Homo sapiens: one gene and its partners. The protein of the gene in region 2 purifies or fractionates together with the protein of the main gene of each other region. This does not show direct contact. Each region holds a gene or a part of one and is shown on either strand. Other genes may lie near its edges. The genes, in order: AXL, INSRR, RHBDF2, CYP51A1, VRK2, SLC27A4 and CDKAL1.

The links.
Region 1: the proteins of INSRR (region 2) and AXL purify together in Homo sapiens (affinity purification with mass spectrometry; one large-scale study listed by BioGRID and IntAct). This does not show direct contact.
Region 3: the proteins of INSRR (region 2) and RHBDF2 purify together in Homo sapiens (affinity purification with mass spectrometry; one large-scale study listed by BioGRID and IntAct). This does not show direct contact.
Region 4: the proteins of INSRR (region 2) and CYP51A1 purify together in Homo sapiens (affinity purification with mass spectrometry; one large-scale study listed by BioGRID and IntAct). This does not show direct contact.
Region 5: the proteins of INSRR (region 2) and VRK2 purify together in Homo sapiens (affinity purification with mass spectrometry; one large-scale study listed by BioGRID and IntAct). This does not show direct contact.
Region 6: the proteins of INSRR (region 2) and SLC27A4 purify together in Homo sapiens (affinity purification with mass spectrometry; one large-scale study listed by BioGRID and IntAct). This does not show direct contact.
Region 7: the proteins of INSRR (region 2) and CDKAL1 purify together in Homo sapiens (affinity purification with mass spectrometry; one large-scale study listed by BioGRID and IntAct). This does not show direct contact.

The regions. Positions count from the first base shown.
Region 1 is NC_000019.10:41,250,223-41,253,722, reverse strand, and holds part of AXL (tyrosine-protein kinase receptor UFO isoform 1 precursor), read right to left. Parts: intron 1,373-3,500; coding exon 1,280-1,372; intron 878-1,279; coding exon 756-877; intron 125-755; coding exon 15-124; intron 1-14. UniProt on the Homo sapiens protein: Receptor tyrosine kinase that transduces signals from the extracellular matrix into the cytoplasm by binding growth factor GAS6 and which is thus regulating many physiological processes including cell survival, cell proliferation, migration and differentiation.
Region 2 is NC_000001.11:156,839,563-156,842,117, reverse strand, and holds the end of INSRR (insulin receptor-related protein precursor), read left to right. Parts: coding exon 1-6; coding exon of another isoform or gene 7-37; intron 38-323; coding exon 324-453; intron 454-589; coding exon 590-724; intron 725-1,013; coding exon 1,014-1,245; 3' UTR 1,246-2,055; downstream 2,056-2,555. UniProt on the Homo sapiens protein: Receptor with tyrosine-protein kinase activity. Functions as a pH sensing receptor which is activated by increased extracellular pH. Activates an intracellular signaling pathway that involves IRS1 and AKT1/PKB.
Region 3 is NC_000017.11:76,494,924-76,498,423, forward strand, and holds part of RHBDF2 (inactive rhomboid protein 2), read right to left. Parts: intron 1-3,500. UniProt on the Homo sapiens protein: Regulates ADAM17 protease, a sheddase of the epidermal growth factor (EGF) receptor ligands and TNF, thereby plays a role in sleep, cell survival, proliferation, migration and inflammation. Does not exhibit any protease activity on its own.
Region 4 is NC_000007.14:92,120,978-92,124,477, forward strand, and holds part of CYP51A1 (lanosterol 14-alpha demethylase), read right to left. Parts: intron 2,877-3,500; coding exon 2,757-2,876; intron 2,339-2,756; coding exon 2,143-2,338; intron 1-2,142. UniProt on the Homo sapiens protein: Sterol 14alpha-demethylase that plays a critical role in the cholesterol biosynthesis pathway, being cholesterol the major sterol component in mammalian membranes as well as a precursor for bile acid and steroid hormone synthesis.
Region 5 is NC_000002.12:58,137,306-58,140,805, forward strand, and holds part of VRK2 (serine/threonine-protein kinase VRK2), read left to right. Parts: intron 1-2,360; coding exon 2,361-2,527; intron 2,528-3,500. UniProt on the Homo sapiens protein: Serine/threonine kinase that regulates several signal transduction pathways.
Region 6 is NC_000009.12:128,347,027-128,350,526, reverse strand, and holds part of SLC27A4 (long-chain fatty acid transport protein 4), read right to left. Parts: intron 1,983-3,500; coding exon 1,824-1,982; intron 216-1,823; coding exon 146-215; intron 44-145; coding exon 1-43. UniProt on the Homo sapiens protein: Mediates the levels of long-chain fatty acids (LCFA) in the cell by facilitating their transport across cell membranes. Appears to be the principal fatty acid transporter in small intestinal enterocytes.
Region 7 is NC_000006.12:20,537,457-20,540,956, reverse strand, and holds part of CDKAL1 (threonylcarbamoyladenosine tRNA methylthiotransferase), read right to left. Parts: intron 1-3,500. UniProt on the Homo sapiens protein: Catalyzes the methylthiolation of N6-threonylcarbamoyladenosine (t(6)A), leading to the formation of 2-methylthio-N6-threonylcarbamoyladenosine (ms(2)t(6)A) at position 37 in tRNAs that read codons beginning with adenine.

The DNA of each region.
Region 1 (3,500 bases), on a different chromosome or scaffold from region 2:
TGAAAGGCACTCACATGCAGTTCCTGGCCGCCAGGTCCCGGTGTATGAATCTCTTGGTACTCAGATACTCCATGCCACTGGCGATGTCTGCCATGAACTTCACTAGCATCTGAGTGGGCAGGTACTGGGGAGCCAAGGCAGGTGGGAGGAGAGGTCAACAGAGTCCTTGATGCGATCCCTCCTCCCTCCATCCCTCTGTGCAAGCCTAGCTCTGCCCGCAGTGGTTTCCCATGGCCCTGACAATTCAACCCAACCCCTCTCCATGGCCTGCAAGGTCCTATAAACTTGCTCCAGCCTTCCTCTTGGACTTGATTGCCTATGTTCTTGCCCTTGACTGACACTCCCACCAGACTCCTGTCTGGTCTTCAGACAAACGATGATCATTCCCACCTCCGAGCCTTTGCCTATGCTGTGCGCTCTGTTGGGGTCGCTTCCTGCCCAGATCTCCAGACATCTCCCCAGCCCCAACTCCTTCACGGTCACCTCCTCGGCAAGATCTTCCACGTCCACCCAAATTCACTGCCTGGCCTCCTTATCTTCCATCCTACTGTATTTCCTTCCTAGCACTTAAACATTTAAATCATCTCGCTTAGGTATTTATTAGCTTGTTTATCATCCGCCCCTCCCCTGCTGGAAGAAATGCTCCAGGAGAGCAAGCTCCTGGTCACCGTGGTCTTCCCAGGGTCTGAGCAGCACTGGGTACCTGATAGATGCTCAGTTAATATTTGTAGACTGAATGATTAAACGCCCCTTACCACTGGCTGGTCCCCGAGCCGGGAATAGAGGAGGAAGCTGTGTAGGTCTCCATGTTTCATGAAAGGTAAGATGACCACAGGTGCTGGGAAGCTCTCTCGTTCAGAACCCTGGAAACAGACACCTGAGCCCCCCAGGTAGCCCTGTCACTCCTGCTGGGCAGAAGGGGAAGCCAAGCCCCCCACCAGCCAGCCTCCAGCCTCTCCTTCTCACTACCCATCCAATCTGGCCACCATATTGTTTGGGGGTAGTGGCAGTGGCAAGGACCAAGCTGCAGAGAAGCTGTTTCCAGCAGAGTTCCCAGGGACGTTTCCGGAGCCCTCCTGGGGACCTCAGCTATTTCTGGGAATGATCAGAGGTCACATTCCAAGCTGAGGGAGACTAGGAGGGGGAAGCCTGCTGACCCTGAAGGAGCGGGGAGCAGGAAGCCTGGAAGTTTGATCTTCCCAGGGCCAGAAGCAGGGCTCTTCCCTCTGCTATGGCCCCCATGGGGCTTGTAGACCCCTTGAATCTGCCCCTCTCTCACCGATGAGCCTCATGACGTTGGGATGGTCAAATTCCTTCATGCAGACCGCTTCACTCAGGAAATCCTCCAGCTCTGACCTCGTGCAGATGGCAACTTGAGGGAGAGAGAAAGGTCGTGAGGAGGAGGGGAGGAGAGGGAGGACTCTCCCTCCACCTCCACTCCATCATCATCATCATCATCATCATCACTCATCTTCATCAAACATGATTAGTAAGTACCAGGCACCATACTCAGCACTTTATATGTGATATGTGTATGTGTGTGTGTCTGTGTGTGTGTATATAATATATATATATATATAAAATATATATTTTCTTTTTTTTTTTTTTTTTAGATGGAGTCTCACTCTGTTGTCCAGGCTGGAGTGCAGTGGTTTGATCTCGGGTCACTGCAACCTCCGCCTCTCGGGTTCAAGCAATTCTCCTGCCTCAGCCTCCTGAGTAGCTGGGACTACAGGCGTGTGCCACCACACCCGGCTAATTTTTTGTATTTTTAGTAGAGACGGGGTTTCACCTTGTTAGCCAGGATGGTTTCGATCTCCTGACCTCACGATCTGCCCGCCTCGGCCTCCCAAAGTGCTAGGATTACAGGCGTCAGCCACTGCGCTTGGCCAACTTTATATATATTAACTCATTTAATCTTCTCAGGTGCTACTATTATCATTCCCATTTTATTGGTTTTTTGTTTTGTTTTGTTTTGTTTTTGTTTTTGTTTTTTATTTTTATTTTTTGAGACAGGGTCTTGCGCTGTCACCCAGGATGGATGCAATCACAGCAAACATAGCTCACTGGAGGTTAGGCTCGAACTCCTAGGCTTGCCTTCCTGAGTAGCTGGGACCACAGGCACGCACCACCATCCCGGATAATTTTTTTTTTTTTTTTGAGATGGAGTTTCGCCCTTGTCCCCCAGGCTTGAGTGCAATGGCGCAATCTTGGCTCACTGCAACCTCTGCCTCCCCAGTTCAAGAGATTCTCGTACCTCAGCCTCCCGAGTAGCTGGGATTACAGGCATGCACCACCATGCCCAGCTAATTTTTGTATTTTTAGTAGAAACGGGGTTTCACCATGTTGGCCAGGCTGGTCTCAAACTCCCCACCTCAAGTGATCTGCCTGCCTTGGCCTCCCAAAGTGCTAGGATTTCAAGTGTGAGCCACCATGCCCAGCCAATTTTTTGAGAGGGAGTCTTGCTATGTTGTCCAGGCTGGTCTCAAACTCCCAGCCTCAAGTGATCCTCCCACCTCGGCCTCCCAAAGCACTGGGATTACAGGCATGAGCCACTGTCCCTGGCCTATCTCTATTTTAAAGATGAAGAAAGCAAGGCACAAAAAGGTTAGGAGTCTGCCTAAGGGAACACACAGCTTGGAGGTGGAAGAGGCAGATCTCAAACCCGGGCAGTCTGGCTCCAGGGTCCACCTGCTCACAACTGCCCAGGCTGCTTCCCAGCACTTCCCTACCTGCCCTGGGGACCCAAACAAGTATCATCCCATTTAACAGTTCAGGACACTGTGGCTCACAGAGGCAAAATGACTTGCCCAAGGTTGCACGGCTGAGATTCAGACCCAGGCCAAGACTATAACCAGTGGGAGGCTGAGTGGGGAGGATCGCTTGAGCCTCAGAGGTTGAGACTACAGTGAGCTGTGATCCTGCCACTGCTCTCCAGCATGGGCAACGAGCAAGACTCTGTCTCAAAAAACAAAAAACGTAGGCTGGGTGTGGTGGCTCACACCTGTAATCCCAGCACTTTGGGATGCCGAGGCAGGTGGATCATGAGGTCAAGAGATAGAGACCATCCTGGCCAACATGGTGAAACCCCGTCTCTACTAAAAACACAAAAATTAGCTGGGCGTGGTGGCGCACACCTGTAGTCCCAGTTACTCAGGAGGCTGAGGCAGAAGAATCGCTTGAACCTGGGAGGCAGAGGTAGTAGTTAGCTGAGGTCATGCCACTGCACTCCAGCCTGGACAGCAGAGTGAGACTCCTCCTCAAAACAAAACAAAACAGAGCAAAACAAACAAAATAACCTGGTACACAGGAGGTGCTCCATAATGAACGAATGAGTGGGTAATGACTTCATAGCCCAAGCTTTTAAGCCCTGTAATTCAGAAAGGATCATTCTCTATTCACCACCAGCCCCAATCTGAATGCCCTATGCTTCTCCTTCCCTGTGTGTGAAGAACTTAGCCCTGGACTTCCTGTGCTGTGTAACCCTGAAATGGCTCCTG
Region 2 (2,555 bases):
TCGGGGGTACAGAGGGTGCCAGGCAGATGAGGGCGGCCTGAAAAGTAGAGAGACTCCCTTAAGCTAGGCATCAGGAGACCCACAGCCCTGGTCCTGACAGCCTGTGAGACCCTTGGCAAGTCACCCCCACCCTGTATCTTAGTCTCTTGTCCAAGGGCAGAGGGGTTTGGATGGGATGAGTTCTGAGGTCCATTGAGCCCCTACTTTCCAGGGTTCTTGGTGACTCTGGAGGATGAGAAGATTGGGAGAGGTATCCCAGGGGCAGGAGCTAGTGCGTGGCTCTTATGCCCCACACCTCCTCCACCCTCACCCTCACTTTCCAGACTTCGGGATGACTCGGGACGTGTATGAGACAGACTATTACCGCAAGGGTGGGAAGGGGCTGCTGCCCGTGCGCTGGATGGCCCCCGAGTCCCTCAAAGATGGGATCTTCACCACCCACTCGGATGTCTGGTGGGGCCGAGCTGGAGCACAGGGCTCCAGGGATGTGGAGGCGGGATCTGGGGAGGGGCCTGGAACACCCCCATCCCTTGGAATGCACTGAGTAGCACGAAGGGTGCTGGGCTCAGGAGCTCCTGCATGCCCCCAGGTCCTTTGGCGTGGTACTCTGGGAGATTGTGACCCTGGCAGAACAACCCTACCAGGGCCTGTCCAATGAGCAGGTGCTGAAGTTCGTCATGGATGGCGGGGTCCTGGAGGAGCTGGAGGGCTGTCCCCTTCAGCTGTGAGTCACCTCCCCTGCCCCTTCCTCATTGTTGATCTACCTACAACCCTCCCCCACCCGGCCCCATGATTCTGGCTCACCTCCTCTGATGCTTTGACATCCACTGACCCTCAGCTATGAGCGCCACCCCCCTATCCCAAACCCCCAAGACTCCCATTTAATCCCTTCTCACCCTCCCAGGCATAATGGCCCACGATCCCCACTCCCACCAACTGACCCTCAGTGCAGGAGGCTGAGAGCGTGGCAGGGGCTCCCGGATGCCTCTGACCCTGCTCCCCACACCCACCAGGCAGGAGCTGATGAGCCGCTGCTGGCAGCCGAACCCACGCCTGCGCCCATCTTTCACACACATTCTGGACAGCATACAGGAGGAGCTGCGGCCCTCCTTCCGCCTCCTCTCCTTCTACTACAGCCCGGAATGCCGGGGGGCCCGGGGCTCCCTGCCTACCACCGATGCAGAGCCTGACTCCTCACCCACTCCAAGAGACTGCAGCCCTCAAAATGGGGGTCCAGGGCACTGAGGGGCACCTCATTCCCTGGCTGGCCTCCCATGGGGAGACAGGAAGGGACCCGACCTCTGTGGCTGAGACGCCTGAATGTTCACCCCCACCCCAACTCAGGGCAAGGGATGGCCGAGGGTGGGGCAGAGAACAGGAGCAGGGAAGGCTGTGGGGGTGGGCAGAGGGGTCTCACCATAGGAGTTTCTCAGACTCTGAGTCCCTCGGGGGAGAGCAAGCAGGGTCAAAGCCAGAGGAGTAGAGATCAGGTCAGGGAGAGATGTCCTGCCCTCAGAGGTAGGGACCCCACTCAGACTAGGAAGAGGGGGCCCGCCCACCCTAGAGGCCCTGCCCCTCAGTTTGGGGTCTCCTCTGGACAGGTAGGGCCAGCGACATGTTTGAAATCAGATGAGCAATCAGAAGCAGGCCTGGGGCGCTCTCCATGCATGTATGGGAGGGGGGTGGGGCTCCACATGACTGCCTTGCTTGCCACTGGTTTCACCTCCTCCCCTCAGCTCCACTGACCAGGTGGCATGGGGAGAACCCAGGGGCCTGGGGAGTGGTTCCCAGCCTGCCCGCCCTCACCTCCTCCTCTCCTTTTGCCCTGCCCAGGGCTCCCCAAGCTTGGTGCTCCTTCCTCCTTTTCTCCAGGGGCATCCCTTGGAGTACAGTCACCCTTTCTTCAGTCCCTCCCCTCAATGATTAGCCCTGGATGCTTAAGGCTTTCAGAGCCTCATCTTCCTCCCTCCCCTCACCCTCACCCAGCCCCGCCCCCACCCCTGCCTCTCATGGGAAGACTGGAGAAGGCACAATAAATGCTGAGGCCTGTTTGTACCCTGGTCCCAGGCAGCCCATTATCTCTCCATCTACATGGTGTTAACACTGGATGAACTTCCTTTCTCCCTCCTCTGGGACTCGAGGTGGTGACCCTAAGGCAGAGACACGGGATAAATACACTGCTGTCAAACACCACCTCCATGAGGACCCGAGCAGCCAGGGTTGCCATGGCAGTGAGGCAGGACAATCTTGCTATTATCTCCTGCTCAGGACCAGAAGTGGTTGAGCCCGGCAGGGAACCTTTGTGTCTAGCCTCCAAGCAGAACCAACCAGTCCCGGACACCTCATCTTAATTTCACCCCTTGTTATGTTCGTTATATCGGTCCACTGGGTAGGTATTTTCTGGAGTGTCATAGGACAGACTTTAAGTGGGCAGACATGGGGCAAGGGAGAGGCCCTGATGACATCACCTGTTCATGCCAGATGCCCCCACCCAAGCCAGGGAACACACAGCAGAGCAGGGTCTGTGTGTCTGGCACCCTGTGGTTATCCTGGGA
Region 3 (3,500 bases), on a different chromosome or scaffold from region 2:
CGGGCCCCAGTTCTCCTGCTCCCTCAGCATCGTTGTGAAGGGGAGGAGTCAGAAGTGGCCCCTGGGGGCCAAAAGGCCCTGTCCATTTGGGGTCAGACACCAGGACACTGGAGGGTTTCCGGGGTGGGGTGTGCACCACACAGTGCCACAGCAACACAGGCTCGGTGGGAACTGCCCTTTGCTGCAAACGTTCATGAAAGTCTGCCTCTCTGCATCCCGGCAGCCGGGTTTTCACGGGTCCTTGGAAGCAGTGGTGGTCCAGCACAAGCCCAGCGGTTGGGGCAGGATGAGATGCAGCCTGGGGTCTGTGTGAGAGGTCCGTTTCACTCCTGCTGGAGGCTCCTTGACACTAAGGTGTGACCAGGCCATTTCCGTTTGTGACTGTCCCATGTACACAGACAGGGCACTGTCCTGTGCTTACAAAGTAGGAGCCCACCCGGTTTCCACCTGCCTCCAGACAGTGAAAATCTGTCCCGATGGCAGAAGACAGGGTCACAGGCCCATCTCTAACCACTGTGCGATCTTGGGCAAGCCACTTAACATCTCTGAGCCTCAGTTTGTGTATGCATAAGATGCTAGTATCCTCCCAGGGTCTAAGATCTATGTGACTTTGTCACCATGAACGAGGGCTCACCCCAGGAACAGCTCAGCTGAGGTACAAGGTCTCACCTATTGTACAGAGAGGTAAGCACCTTGCCCAGTGCCACCCAGCCAGAAATAGGCCTGGACTGGCTGGGTGTGAGCATGCAGAGCCCAGGGAGCCGACGGCATCCCTGGGCCCTCACCTCGACACACTCAGAGCGCTTCTGGAGGCCCAGTTCTGCCTCCGGCTGCATGGAGCCCCTCAGCAGGGAGGGAAAATGCCAGGCAGACACTTCTGAGCTTGTAAACGGTCATTAAGGAACTAATAAACCTGATTTCCCAGAACGTTGCCCTGGGGCTCCCTGCTTCCCAGGGAAGAGGCTGGCCCTAGCCCCAGTGACTGCCAGGGTTTCAGGACACGGGGACACCAGGTTGCTTGTCCCAAGCAGGCCTGCAAAGCCACGTGCTTATGGCCCACACCTTGCTTCGGGGCAGCGTGGAGCTCTCTTGCTGAGGAATGAGGAGGAATAAGGGGCCAGAGATGGGACTCAAACCTGCCTGGGCCACCTACCTGCTGGGAGACTTTGGGCAAGTGGGTGCTGCAGAGCCTGCCTCCTCTGCTGTGAGATGGGTTGATGCCCCACCACGGAGGGAGCCAGGGAAGATGACAGCAGATATGAATGTACAGTGCCTGGCACACACCCAACGCCCAGTTGGAAGTTTCTTTTATTCCTGGCTGAGCTCTGCCACCATCGCTCACTTAGTCTCTATCTGAGCCACGAGCCCCACAGGGGACAGATCTCTATTCGACAGGTGGGGAAACTGAGGCTCAGAGAGATGAAGTCACCTGTCCAAGGTCCCACAGTTAGGGAGGTGGTGGGGCTACAACCCCAGCCAGGGTCCCGCGCTCTTAACCTCCACACTCTGCAGCCTCTTGCCACCCTGGAACTGGTGAGGGGCAGGAGAAAAAGAACGGGTGAGGACTCTGAGTGTTTGGGGTGCTGGAGTGAGTCCTGCATGCAAAGGCCTTTGATTCATGAAGAAGGGACAGCACCTAACTGCCTGGGCAGCACTGCTCAGCTTGCAAAGGACTTTTACAGACATGATCTCATTTAGTTGAGGCTAAGGGTGAGAGGCGGCTGTCATCATCCTCACGGGCTGGCAAGGTCAAAAGGGGCTTAGGCCAGGGTTCAAAGTCCTGTTCCCACTCCAAACCCCACAGCAGATCCTCAACCCTCCTCTTCCAGATCTCTTTTTTTTTTCTTTTATTTTTTGAGACGGAGTCTCGCTCTGCTGCCCAGGCTGGAGTGCAGTAGGGTGATCTCGGCTCACTGTAAGCTCTGCCTTCTGGGTTCAAGCGATTCTCCTGCCTCAGCCTCCTGAGTAGCTGGGACTACAGGTGCATGCCACCACACCTGGCTAATTTTTTTGTATTTTTAGTAGAGACGGGGTTTCACCGTATTAGCCAGGATGGTCCCGATCTCCTGACCTTGTGACTGCCTGCTTCAGCCTCCCAAAGTGCTGGGATTACAGGCGTGAGCCACCGCGCCTGGCCCCAGATCTTCTTATGACTAAATGGAGCTGACAACCTGGGGAGACCCACTGGGAGAGGGAAAAGGGTTTCTTGCCAGAGACCGGGGCAGGAAGCCATCCCTGCACCACCTGCTGGCACAGGGTTGGCGGCCACACGGGGGAGGCAGAGGAGAAAACCAAGACTTGAGGCAGCTTTACCCTGCTCCCAGCCCCAGGAACCTACGCCAGGGAAAGCACAGCTGAGGGGCACCAACTCCATGAGCTGCCCCCCACCCCACTGTCAGTGACACACACACACTGGCAGGCCAGGAAAACCCCTGGGCAGAGGTCAGCAGTTCATGCCCAGATGGAAACCCACCCTCACTTCCCTTGGCCAGCAAGGCACTGAGGTCCCCCTACCCCAGACACAGCCACTCCTACAGAATAACAATAACAACAGTGCCACTGCTCCATATGCGTGTTCCCATCTAGTCCTTGACAGCCCACGAGGCAGGGCCTCGGCCATCTCCCAAGTCTGTGCCATGGACCGGCAGCCACGCCCCTACCTGAAGCCACCCTAACACCATTATCACGATGGCTCCCCGCACTGCTCCTGCCATGGCCGGGCACTGCACTGCAGGCTGCACACCTTTACCACGGGAGTCCTCACCTCACACAACCCTCCAGGTAGATTACTGTTAGTGAGCCCACTGTGCAGCTGGGGAAACTGAGGCACAGACTAATTAAGTGAACTCATCCTACTGAGCACACACATGGACGACTGTGCCCAGCAGCCCCTGGACCTTGGCCCAGCTCCTGAAGTTTGGAATCCTCCTCCATCCTTTTCTGCTGGTCACAAGGTTCCCCTCACACTCCAAACAGTGTCTCTGGCCCACCTCCTGCACTGCCCACTTGGCTGAAACCACTTTCCTGCAGGAGCCGGGCACTGGGGCTGGAACTGCCTTCCAGTAGCTTTTGGACCACAAACAACTCCCAGCTGGGCGCCCGGATACATTTGCTGAAGGAGGGGCCGTGGACACGGTGGCGCTTTGTACTTCCCGGAAGATGTGTTTTTCCTTACACCCATCCTAGGTCTCCTGGGAGGCAAAACGACGTTCCGGGCAGGCTTGGTTTCCCTGTGAAGCCGCCCGTGCCCTGAGAGCTGTCCCTGCCTAGCCACCACCACCGCCGAGGTCAGCCTGTACTTGGGCAGGCGCAGACGTCCCCGCCACTCCTCCCCCAGCCTGGCTCAGCTGGATAGGAAACTGGGAGCCGCTTCCGACAGCCAGCGCTTCCACAGCCGGTGCAGATGCCTGAGCTCACTCTGGAAATCCCCTGGGGCAGATGGGGCAGCGCCGAGGCCTGCTCCAGAGTGCGAGGCACAGAGATCTGAGGAGAGTGTGGAG
Region 4 (3,500 bases), on a different chromosome or scaffold from region 2:
CAGGGAAATGCAAAATCAAAACAAAATACCAACTGGGCATGGTGGCTCACACCTGTAATCCCAGCACTTTGGGAGGCCAAGGCGGGCAGATGACTTGAGGTCAGGAGTTCAAGACCAGCCTGGCCAATATGGTACAACCTTGTCTCTACCAAAAATACAAAAATTAGCCAGGCGTGGTGGTGTGTACCCAGCTACTTGGGAGGCTGAGGAAGGAGAATAGCTTGAACCTGGGAAGCCGAGGTTGCAGTAAGCCAAGGTCGCGCCATTGCACTAGAGCCTGGGCATCACACCAAGACTCTGTCTCAAAAAAAAAAAAAAAAGTATCACTTCACACCTATTATAATAAAAAAATCAAGTAACAAGTTTGGTGAGGGGGTGAAGTCAGGACCAACATATACTGTTTAGTGAGATTTGAAAGTGGTGCAGCCACTTTTTAAAACAGTCTGGCAGTTCTTCAAAGTTACCTTATAACCCAGCAATTCTACTCCTAGGTATGACCCCCCAAAATTGAAAACACATGTCCACATAAAATCAGTACACAAACGTTTAGAGCGGCATTATTCATAATAGTTTAAAAGGTGGAAACAACTCAAATGTCCATCAACTGATGAACAAATAAACAAAATGTGGTCTATCCATATAATGGAATATTATTGGTAATAACAAAGACTGAAGTACTGATACATGCTACAACATGGAAGAACCCTGATAACATGCTAAGTGAAACAAGGTAGTCACAAAAGACTACAAATTGTATGATCCCATTTACATGAAATATCCAGAATAGGCAAACTCACAGAGGCAAAAGGAGATTAATGGTTGCCAGGGGCAGCAGTCAGGGAGAATGAAGCATGACTGCTAATGGGTACCAGCTCTCTTTTGGGAGTGATGTAAATGTTCTAAAATTAAATTATGATGATGGTTTCCCAACTCTTAATATGCTAAAAACCACAAAGTGTACATTTTAAATGGATGGATTTATGCTATGTAAATATATCAGTTAAGCTGTTATTTTAAGTTACTAAAAACAAGAATGAGTGTTGAGACATCACTACTGAGCTTACAGAAATAAAAAGGATTATGAGAATACTATGAACAATTGTATGCCAACAAATTAGGTAACCTAGATGAAATGGACAAATTCCTAGAGAGATATAAACTACTGAAACTGACATAAGAAGAAATGGAATATCTGAATAAACCTGTAACAAATAAATTGAATTAGTAAGTAAAGTCTTCTCAGAAAGAAAAGCACAGATCTAGATGATTTCACTGCTGAATTTTTGCAAATATGTAAAAAAGGATTAACACCAATCATCCACAAACTCTTCCAAAAATTAGAAGAAAAAAAGAATACTTCCAAATACATTCTATGAGATGAGTATGATCCTGATATCAAAACCAGTCAAAGACATCACAGTGAAACTAGAGATCAATATCCTTTATGAATATAGATGCAAAAATCCTCAACAAAACACCAGCAAGTTTATATGTAGTAACATATAGAAAGAACTATGCACCATGACAAAGTAGGATTTATCCCAGGAATACAATTAACATCTGAAAATCAGTGTAATGTGCCATATTAATATAGGACCAAAAGCACAAAAGATAACAGGAAGATGACATCACCAAGGTTTGCTTCCAAGATGGAATGTCAGGTTGTGCAGTGAGTTGTCCTCTCTTCCTTTCCACCCAGCAAGTTGCATGTAGTATTTGTAAATGTCTTGTCCTCATTACTACTACTACTACTACTTTTAGAAGTCTCTGCTCATGCCCAGGCCACTCTGGACATACAGAATTCTAAGTAATTCAGAGGCTTCTACACTTCATAAGACACACAACATGCACATAATATCCTCTATGTACAGAAGCCAGACTTTGAAGCAGAGGAAGTAAGTACCAAAGAAACATCCCCAAGGATCTCTAAGCCATCAACCCAAAACATATCTGATAAAGCTTAATGGCAAGAAGCAATAACATTAAGATATTTTAGGTAAGGTTATAGGGAATTTGCTAAAAATAGAGAAGCTGATCAATTTAAGCTATAGTATATAGAAAATCTCAAATTGTCCCTTTTAAAAATTAGCCACAGATCCTCAAAGTCATAAGGCAGCAATGAAACTGAAAAATCCAACAAACCTGGTCATAAGTTAAAGGAGGCAGATTCTCTCCACAGACTGTTTTCTGTTCTAAATAACATTTTTTTTGAAGTGTTTTGTCTCTGGCCAAAAAGAAGCCCATCCAAGCACTAGTAGTTGAGGATGTATGCTGCCCTGCCAAGAGTAATCCAATAAGCATCCCTGCTACTTCATCATCAGTCAAAGGACGCCCATCCCTAAGGAATGAACCAAAGACACAAATTTAACATTTTGGCAGATACATTTCATGCCTCAACCTTTAAATAAAGTGTCATAATGAATACATTTTTCAGGTATAGTGGTCTCTTATATTTGACTATCACAAGTCAAGAGTTTTTTTTCTCTTAGGGAAGAGACAGACCAGCACAAAACGATTTTGATTACAAAAGACTCCATTACAGTTCATTAGCAAACTTTTACCATACCCAGTCACTGGGATTACAGTAAGACACAGGATGCCAATAGTTTATGTCTCAACAATTTAAAGAGTCCAAAGATCACAGCTACCAACTTATTTTGCCAGCATCACTGTTTTTTAACTGGAAATACTATTTAACTGTGTTTTAATGTGTAATTTCCTGCTTCAGCTTAATATGTTATCTGAATAGCTCTTACTTGTATGTAGCATCTAGTAAAGTTTGGAGAATGTCATCAATTTTTTCTTGAGACTGTCTGCGTTTCTGGATTGCCTTATAGAAAATATCCTTGATTTCCCGATGAGCTCTGTCCCTGCGTCTGTAATTAAAAGATAAAGATGATTTTCTTAAATAAAGAAATAACCTTCTAGGATCAAATTCATTTTGAGAACCAGGACCGAGCATAAAGCATCTTATTTAACCAACTTTAATGACTCTAAAATAATTGACAAAAAAATCAGAACCAGGAACATACTGGAAGTCATGAAAATCTTACATTGTTAAAAATGTCCATAGTCCCTAAGGGCAAGAACTGTGCTTTATTTAACATATATATCCCAGATTCTTAACACATTGCCTGTGTTCAAACTAAAGGCCTAAAACAAGCAAGAAATTCCTTTAGAAGTATTTTCCAGTTCAACAGAAAGTAGGATACTCTTTTAAATTAACATAAAATTCCAATTTTAATACCAAATCAAGTCTTAAAGCAGAAGAGTCACTCTGGTTCTTCCATGGAATCTGGTTCTACTTTTCACTTTCTAATACAATAGTTTTTTGTAGGGGGTGAAAATACTAGCAGATTCAGAAAACAAGCTTCAACTCCTAAACTTTACCTTTAAATAGTATGTTCACTATGTAGCAGGTACCATGTTAAGTGTTTTACATGAATTACTCACTTTTATCTTCCTGTGAGGTACATACTATTAACCTCAAGTTATAGCTA
Region 5 (3,500 bases), on a different chromosome or scaffold from region 2:
CTGCAGAAAAAGGAACTGTTCAGTTTAGGGTAAGAAAGCCCAGATGCCCTGAATTGTACAAGACAAATGCTTGTGGGCAGTGTATATTATGTCATACTCTATTGTTAAAGATTTGAGTCAGATGAGTAATCTAGATGGGAGACAAGCCCAGTTTTTGTTTCTTAGCACAAACCATTTTATTGAATCCATACTATTATTTATAAAATGCAGATTTCTGTTTCTAAAGCAAAAAGTGTTGAAACTTTAATATTACATGAAGGTCTCTTAAATTAGGAGGTTGTGCTTAGGAAGAACACAACCATGAAAATGAAGGAACTGATTTACAAAAGTTTATTACCGAAACATTTTATGAAATAAAACAGCCAGAAGTTTGCAGCATACATGTCCAACTAAGCATAATAATAATAGTTTCAAAAGTTTCTATCTCTTGATAGTAATGATACTTAATACTTCACTGGCTTAAAAAGCAGATGATTAAAAAAATCATAATTTCATACTAAAGGCATTTTGCTTTATAGTTCTGGCAATATGCTAGTAAATTTTAAAATGTACTTAATAAATCCAGATCTTGAAAGACTAACATTTAAACCAGTATTACATCACAATATCTACGCTTCAGGTTTGTAATAATAAATTTATAATGGAAATGGCTCTTTTTATTTTCTCCCCCTCCTACCTCACTGGTACCTCATTTTTCCAAACCCCAGTCCCATGAAGGCTTTGCAGCACAGCTGCTATCAGTTGGTGGAGTGCCAGGAGTTTTCCATTGTCTTGTAACAGTGATTTGTTCCCAGCACATTCAACTCTCTTCCTCATTTTGGATATTCTGGTTAATGGAATTGTAATATGTACCAAACTTGGCTTACCAATCTTCACAGGACCATAAAACAAAAATATTTATATTAAAATAGTAGTGAATGTAATTTAATTTTTTAATCATCCCTTTAGAAATTGGATACCCCCGAGCCCTTGTGAAGGGGCTGCATGAAGCATCAGTTATAAATATGGTGATAAAATAGCAGCACTTGCTAGTTAACAGAGATCTGGTTGACCGAATGCTAGATAACAGAATTTGATAAAAATAGATGAAAAAAACAGGTTGCATAATTGCTACAGTGTCAAGGAAGAAAAGCCCAGAACCAAGAGTTTACATTTTAACCACGTTAGCTTCATGTTCCCAGGAAATAGCTCTGTACTATATGGTGAAAGTGGTCACTCTTAACTTTAATAGGGGGAAAGCGATGATGACTATTCCTTTTGAAATTTTTCTCTATAGGGAGTGAAACCCAGTGCCTCTGCAGTTTTCCTTTCTTTTGAGTGGAGGTAGGCCTAGAGGGGAAGTGAAGGATTAGGAAGTCACTCCTGCCAACGCATGAAGTTTCCCAGGTTTTCCCACCATGGATATAAGCAACTAAGTGAGAAAGTAAGAAGTACTTGAGTTTGAGTCAGTAATATATTTTTGAAAGGGAAAGGCATATCTAAACATCTCTGTGAACAAATGAAAACATGCCAGTTTTTAAATAGTATTTGGTATTATCACCACTTCTATTCCAATTTTAGGTTGAACCTCAACATGAAACAGAAATGCAAGCTACAAATATTTTAATGCAGTGATGTTTGTAACTGTTGGTTACTAATTCTGTTTGTATTTAAAAGTTGGTAGTTCCTAACCTTTTTGGGGAAAGGGGGTTTACTATGTAGTTCTAGGGGAACATTTCTTTACACTAGAGAAAAAATAAAAGATGGCAACTCCTCCTCCCACTGCTCTAAAATCAAAAACACGAGGCTGTGTACCAGGCTAGCTAGGTATGGAGGACATGAGGGAGGTTTCATACATTCTAAATTCAATCTTAGCTAACAACATGGAATTCAAGGTCCTTTCTAAATATACGGTTATAATCCCAAAATCAAAGCCTTAATTAAAATTTGCAGTTTTTTTCCTTAGAAATAAAGAGGTTTATAATAAGTAACACTTTAACTGAATTTTTAGAAGTTCAGCATAAAGTGTGAAGTATGGTCAGTTGTATTATTTATGTAGTCCTTAATAGTTGCACCTCATAAATCAAAATCACTATAATTATTACAATATACTTCCTCTCATAAGATCAGTGAATTATAAGCGTATCAACAAAAATATGTTAAAAACATTACTAGTTTGTCTCATCAATTCTGTAGGTCACTATATTTCAGTCATTTTTGAATATCATTTAAAAAGTTATTTTCATTGAATTGTTCATTTTTAGTTTCTTCAGGAGATGTAAATGTGTAAAAGACAAAGATAACAAAGATTTTGAGATTACTGGAGTCTTGACAATTCTTGCCAATTGTGAATGACATGTAAAAAATTTAATAATTCACAGGTGAAATAGCCCAATTTTTGGTATGTGCTCATAGTTTAGCATATGATGAAAAGCCAAACTATCAAGCCCTCAAGAAAATTTTGAACCCTCATGGAATACCTTTAGGACCACTGGACTTTTCCACAAAAGGACAGAGTATAAATGTCCATACTCCAAACAGTCAAAAAGTAAGTAACATAATCCCTGCTATCCTATGATTACCTTCTATGATACTTTTCTATCGAATGAAATTGTTTTAGGTCTCAAAATGAGTCTGACAGCTTTCTTCTTCCTTATATTTAACTCCCATTTTGCCTAACTCAGCACCAAGAAAGTTTGTTCCAAGTTCTTTTGACCTGTTGTCTCACAGAGAAAAATAGGATCTGTGGCCTACTATGTACTATGAAAGAAAGCAGTCACTACTGTCATAGAGATGTGACTAGGGTAAAGGCTAATCTGATGTTACTCATGAGAAAGCCATCATTTGCTTCTTTTCTCCAGGTTTTCTTTAGATATTGCCCTGTGTTTTTGCCTACCAATTTGGCCATAATTTGGTGATAACAGTCTTCGATTTAACCAGGTTATTTGTATGTGCTGATATTTCAATCCATGGAAACAGTTCTTTACAGAAAATAAAAGAGTTTATGCCAGAGATCTAGGTTAAAAAAAATCATTTTTTAAAAGTTACACCTCTTCTTTTAGTCTGCCATCTTCCCAAAGACCAACACCAACTTAAAAAAAAAATTAAGATTTCGAGCATTTTTAAGCGGGTGGTGGAAATCTTAGACTGCCGTTATTAGCAAGAATAGTGGACAGGCAACTCAGCATCCATGTCTTCCTTGACCACTATCCGTATGCACAAATAGAGTGTGGAGGGCATTTTTTTCCTGATGCATGTACAGTAAGATAGGGTCAGGATGCTATTCATTTTTAATATTTCTTATGAACTTTGGATCATCACACGTGTTCATGAGCCAAGAATGCGGGATGCAAACTAATGTGACTGATAGGCTGCTAGATGAATGGTGAGTCAAGTATCAGTGCACAGATGGTTCTGATTTGCTGAATTTTGTAGTTGCTGCAACTGAAGACATAAAATATCCTTCTAGTCATAAATTAGCTCTTTGGAAGCAAAACCTTGGCACCAGAGCTTTACAACCT
Region 6 (3,500 bases), on a different chromosome or scaffold from region 2:
CATGCGGAATCCATAGTACACCAGGGCAGCCATGCGGTAATACCTGGGAAGGCACAGGGCCAAGGGCTGAGCGGGCCCTAGAAAGGCAGAAGGAGGCTCCCCAGCCCTGCCTGTGCCTACCCCACCCTGGGCACCTGCCCCTTACCTGCTGTGCACCACGATGGCGGCCTTGGGCAGCCCTGTGGTGCCGGATGTGTAGATGTAGAACAGTTTATCTAAAGAAAACAGACGCGAGTGGCTGTCGGGGGCAGCTCAGGGCTGGGCAAAGGGTCACACAAATGGACACCTGCAGGTGTGCACCCTTCAACACCTGTTCCCATCACACCCTTGCTAGGAAGCCTGTTCTGATAACCTCAGATACCATTCAGCTCTAACACCGGCATCCATTCCAACAAATATTTCCTGGGCCCTTGCTCTGTGCTAGGCCCTGGTGGAGAGAGACATCAGTGAGTAAGATGGGCACGGGCCTGGCCCTCTTGGCAGTCACAGCTCAGTGGAACAGTCAGATGAGGACACAGGCAATTCCAATACTAAGCAACAAGTGCCGAGGGAGGGCACAGGACCTGTTGAAACCCAGTAGCCACATTTGGCCCAAGCTTGCAGGAGGGGAGGTGGTGCCAGGTGGGCTTCACGATAAAGGTGACACCTGCCCCAAGTCATAGAGCACAGGGAGGCATTAGCTGCAGGAAGTGGGGTGTTGAGGTAGCTTCCGCACTGCTGAGCATTGATCTGTCCCACTCTGCAGCCCTCGACAGGGATTGCCACGTTAGAGTTTCTATGTGAGGCTCGGCCCTACCAGACTTGAGGTTCCCTGGAGGTCAGGAACTCCACAGGCAGACTCCACGTGTTTAGAATGCCTGCCGAGACACCTCATGCTCTCTGCCTGCCTGCTGTTTGCCAGCCCTAGGCACTATGAGGGCACCAGAGCAACCAGCCAGAGTCCCTGCCCTCAAGCAGCTGACAAATGCACCCAAGAGACCAGATTCACATACAAGAGAGAAGTTAAACAGTGCTGATGACAATGACCAGTTACTGAGCCCCTCCTGCCACACCCTAGCTTCAGGACTGGCCCCACTGTATTTTTTTCAACCCTCAAAGATACCCCATAGAGTAGGTTCTGCTACTGTCCCCAGTTTTATGGCTGTGGGAACTGAGGCTCCAAGGGCAGGGCAGGTGTCAGGGTTCACACAAAGGAAGCAGTAGAACCAGGATATAAACTCGGATCTGACTCGACAGCCCAAGCTCTGAGCCACCAGGCAATGTGGCTTCACAGGAAAGAGAATGAGAAGAGCAGAAGAACCAGGTAGGCTACAGTATAAAAGAAGAGGGGTGAGAGGCTCAGGAAGGCTGCCTGGAGGTGGGGTCAGGGAGGCAGCACAGTGCTGGGAGAGGATCACAGCTGGAGATCCTGAAGTGTCCTGCACTGAAGAGGCACTTGATGAATATACAAAGGGTCTTGCTCCTCACCCACCCTCCCACCCAACCCCAACCAAAGCCCAGACCAGGCAGGTTCCCGGAGTCCACAGGATTCTGCCCATTAGGCATCAATGAAGGCTTGTTCAACAAATCACACTGGACTTTGTGAGCTCCTGTGTTCTCAGCCCTGTATCTGGCACTGATACACATCAGCTCATGTCACCTTCACAGTAACCCTGGAGTGGCCCAGGTTTACTGTCACCATTTTCCAGATGGAAAAAGGGAGGTGACGTGACATGTTCCAGGCACATGGCAAGTTTCCAGAAAAGCCTCCTTCTGGCACTGAGGCCAGTGCTCTGTCCAGGGCCTGTGTGAGAGCCCCTCTATGGGGAGGGGATGGAGCCCACCTGTGAAGCCCTTGTCAGGGCAACTGGGAAGGTGCTTGGGAGCATCTTTCAGCAGAGGGTCCAGGTGTTCTGTGCTTGGAGGCACCGCACCGGGCTCCCAGGAGCCAGAGCAGAAGAGGCTGAGCGAGGGGTCCAGGCTGGCATGGACCTCACAGATGGCTGTGGGGAGACAGGGCAGTCAGCAGGCAGGCCAGAAAACCCCATGTTCCCAGGGACCTCTGCTCCCAGCAGGGCTGGCCATGTTGCTGAGGATACTGGCTGGGCAGGAGGAGAGGCAGTGAAGCAACTGGGCCTTCAGTGTTGACAGGGGCACCGGCAATGGTTCTATTAGCCATGGGCTAACCACAGAGTAGGTCCGCTTTACCTGCATTCCCTGGTCTCACAGCCCTGGGAAGGAGGGACCATTGACAGCCCCTCTTACAGATGAGAAGATTGACGCTCCGAGAATGAGAGGACCTGCTCACAGCTAGAATGTGCTGGACCTGGCGTGCAATGCCAGCTCTACCTCACATCAAGGTCTGGGCTCCCCCCCACTATCCCGCACTACTTACTCTGTGGTGCACCAGATAGAAGGGAGGAGTGCGGGTCAGAGGCCAGTGGCCCTCCATCCCCTTCCGAGAGCGGGAACCTGCTTTCAGGCTCCCCTGCGCACTGCACGGACATCACATAACCCCCACCCCCGGGCATGGAGCAGCGCTGGTCGGCTTGGCCCCACCTTCCTGGCTTCCTCTTGATTTGCCCAACCCTCTCTTCTTCCCTGGCTGCCTTCTTCCCTCTCCCCTTTCAGCACCATTTTTTTCTTTCCTTTCTTTTTTTTTTTTTTTCTTTTGCTTTTTTTAAATAGAGACAGACAGGGTCTCACTATATTGTCCAGGCAGGTCTTGAACTCCTGGGCTCAAGAGATTCTCCTGCCTTGGCCTCCCAAAGTGCTGGGATTACAGGCATGAGCCACTGTGCCTGGCCCCCTTTCAGCATCTTTTTTTTTTTTTTTTTAAGACAGAGTTTCACTCTGTCGCCCAGGCTGGAGTGCAGTGGCATGATCTCGGCTCACTTGGTTCAAGTGATTCTTGTGCCTCAGCCTCCTGAGTAGCCAAGATTACAGGCGTGTGCCACCACACCTGGCTAATTTTTGTATTTTTAGTAAAAACAGGGTTTCACCATGTTGGCCAGTCTAGTCTTTAACTCTCGAGCTCAGGTGACCTGCCCTCCTTGGCCTCCAAAAGTGCTGGGATTACAGGCGTGAGCCACCATGCCAGGCCCCCTTTCAGCATCCTAATGACTTCCCTATTCATTATCCCACAACCACAACAGTGTGGGGAGAAAAAACAGAGTGCTGTGATCAAGCTGAAGATCAAACCCCAGTTCTACCACTTACTAACTGTGTGATCTTGGGTGAGCTCCTCACAAACCCCTCTGAACTCCAGGCTCATCATCCATAAAACCAAGATCCCTACCTCACTCGGTCTTTATAGAGATTAGAGCTGCTCTTGGAAAGCAGCAACCTCAGTACTTTGCAGGTGCCCAATGTGGCAGCAAATAAAATGCAGGCTCTGTGAGGAAAGTGGGGAATTAATTTTGTTCCCATTTTACAGATGAGCTAGATACGGCCTAATTAGTCACAAGGATGATTACCATTGTACTGAGGGGCCACCTAGCATCAGCCATGTTGCTAGTGCT
Region 7 (3,500 bases), on a different chromosome or scaffold from region 2:
TGTTACAGGAACTCTTCTCTAGTTTCAGGCACTCCCTAGGTGACCTCATCCAGTCCCATGGCCTTGAAATATGAACTACGTCTATGCTTACATAACCAGCCCCATTCTTCCCCCGAGCTTCAGACTCAGACGTTCAACTGCCTATTCCACACCACTGCTTGAATGTCTAATAATTCCTTCAAACTTAAAAAGTTAAAACAGGGCTGGGCATGGTGGCTCACGCCTGTAATCCCAACACTTTGGGAGGCTGAGGCGGATGGATCACCTGAGGTCAGGAGTTGGAGGTCAGCCTGGCCAACATGGTGACACCTCGTCTCTACTAAAAATACAAAAATTAGCCAGGCATGGTGGTGGGCACCTGCAATCCCACCTACTCGGGAGACTGAAACAGAAGAACCGCTTGAACCCAGGAGGCAGAGGTTGCAGTGAGCTGAGATTGCACCACTGCACTCCAGCCTGGGCGACAAAGGGCGAAGCACCATCCCAAAAAAAAAAAAAGTCAAAGTCGAAACAGAATTCCTGATCTTCTCCCTACCTTACCAGATCCTCTTACAACTTCTCCCATTTCATTTAATGGCAATCCTGGCTGGGCGCAGTGGCTCATGTTTGTAATCCCAGCACTTTGGGAGGCCGAGGTGGGTGAATCACAAGGTCAGGAGTTCAAGACCAGCCTGTCCAACATGGTGAAACCCCATCTCTACTAAAAATACAAAAAATTAGCCAGGCATAGTGGCGAGCGCCTGTAACCCCAGCTACTTGGGAGGCTGAGGCAGGAGAATTGCCTGAGCCCAGGAGGCAGAGGTTGCAGTGAGCCAAGATCTCACCACTGCACTCCAGCCCGGCCAACAGAGTGAGACTCTGTCTCAAAAAAAAAAAAAAGACAATCCCAATCTTCTACTGCTCAGGCCAAAAATCCTGCACTCCCCTCTTTCTGTCACCCTAAATCCAATCAATCAACAACATCCTGTTGGCTGTACCTTCAAAATATATTCAGAATCTATTTGTGACCATACCCACTGTTACACTCTTGGTCCAAACCAACATCACCTCTTGTCTGGATTATTGCAATCCCTAATATCCTTGCTTCTATCCTTAAACTCTACAAGAACATTTTCAGCACAGAAGTCAGGGATCCCTTTAAAACCTAAGTTCATCTCAAGCTTCTCAATCAAACCCTTCCAGTGGTATTCCATATCAGAGTAAAAAGCCAAAATCACTACAAAGATCTGCAATGACATATATAATCAGCCTCCTGCTGCATCTCTGGCCCCACTTCCTACCACGCTCCCCTCAGTCATGCAGGCTTTGTTATTTCGTACCCACTAGATATGCATTCATTTCACAGTCTTATTCTTGCCTGGAATGCTCTTACTTAAGACACCTGAATGGCTCACTCACTCAAGCCCTTAAGGACTTTGCTCAAGTGTAACAAGAGAGGACTTTCCAACCAACACCCCCACCTCACCACACACCCTCTTCCTATGCCCCTTTCCTGCCTTTTTTTAAACTGTAGCATTTAATCATCTGCTTAAAATGTTTTAATAATTTTTTAACTGTTTATCTTACTAGAATACATACTTCGTGAGGGTAAAGGTTTTCGTGTGAGGTGTTCACTGTTTTATCCCAGGTGCCTAGAACTATGTCTAGCACATTGCAGGTTCTCAATAAATACTTTTACTGCAGACTACACAGTCGGGCAATATATGGATATAGATATTCTGAGTATGCCAAATTAGTTTCTGACTCGGGAGCCTTCATAATTGCTATTCCTCTGCCAGAATATCAGCCCCCAGATAAGTATGTCTTCCCACCCACTTCTTCACTCAAACAACATCTCCTCGGAGAGGCCTTTCCTACTACCTTATCTAAAATAACCACGCTGCCCAAGCATGCCCACACTTTCACTGCTTCTAACCCTGCTTTTGTTTCATGTTTCTTCATTGTGCTTACCTACCTGACACCACATATATAATTGTATCTTCCTCATTACAATGTAAGCTTGTTAAGCACAAAGGCATCATCTCTTTTTCAGTACTGTCTCTACAACACCTCTAACAATGCCTGACACATAGCAGGCACACAATAGTTACTGACTAAATGAATGAACACAATGCTTAAGTTGAATTTAGCTAGTCTTTCTATGACACAGCAGGAAATTCTACACTGGGTGGGAAGCTGAAGTAAATGCCCAACCCCTAGGATTTCTTCTATCACCACTCTTCTATGAAATAATTAAATGAGAGAGGCTAGGACCAGGTAGTGCCTTTGGAATGCGGAAGAACTACTGACAGATCATGAATAATTAAATAACATTAATTAAAAGCCATATTTTTTAATTACACAATTTTGCCATCCCATATACAAGTGTGTATGGATCCACTGAAGAGAAATAGAAAGGAAAAAGAGGAATGAAAGGAATCCACTGCAATAGACATCCCATATCATTAGAGTTAGAGAAGCAGAAGTTGCTAAGCTTCTTATCTTACAGAGCTGGAGTCCACTGAAGCAAAAGGATTTGTACATTGATAGAGCTAGAAATCAGAACCTTGGCATCCTCTCAATACCATGCTCTTCCCACTATGGCTTTGCCTCACTGGCAAAGTACAAACAATGCAAGAATCTAATGTGACACTAATAAGTAACCACATTCCAGAAAACAATGCGTAAAGGAAAAACAGGCAGTTCACTTAAGAAATACAAATACCCAGAAAAGAAAAAAAAAAAAAGAGGAAAGAATGCTCAACCACACTAACAACAAGTATTGAAACAATAAGTTATTTTTCAGCTGCCTCACTGATACAAAGCTGACAAAAACTCTGTTAGCTGAAAGCACAGAAAAACTGGTACACCCCTTCTGGAGGGCAACCTGACAATTATACCAAACATATGTATATCCTTCGAGCCAGCAATTTCATTTGGAGATATTCACTCAAAAAAGATAAATATAACGCTGCATATCAGCATTATGTAGCATAAACCTGGCTGTATATCATAAGTACCTAAATAATCTCACTCATCACTATTAATAAGCTAAAGGTTTTACTTTGAACAAACTGATAGACTGATAGAGGGAATTGTTTAGCCTTCAGAAATTTTTAATTAAATCATATGGAAATGAAAGTTTGAGAATAAAAGGAAAGCAGCGTAATAGCTAAATGGAGCAAAAGGATCATTAAAAATTTTTCTCAAAGGTAGAGGAAATCAAATTTGATAAAGGGAATAAAAATAGAGTCAGTGAAAAGGAAAATACTCAAAATGATAGGAAGAAGGAGGATGCAATATCCTAGAGCAGTGGTTACTTACATAGGTGAGTTATTAGGGAGGCTTTTTTTTTTTTTTTTTGTAATTATGAGACAGAGTTTCACTCTTGCTGCCCAGGCTGGAGTGCAATGGCACGATCTCGGCTCACTGCAACCTGTGCCTCCTGGGTTCAAGCAATTCTCCTGCCTCAGCCTCCCGAGTAGCTGGGATTACAGGCACCTGCCACCACGCCCAGCTAA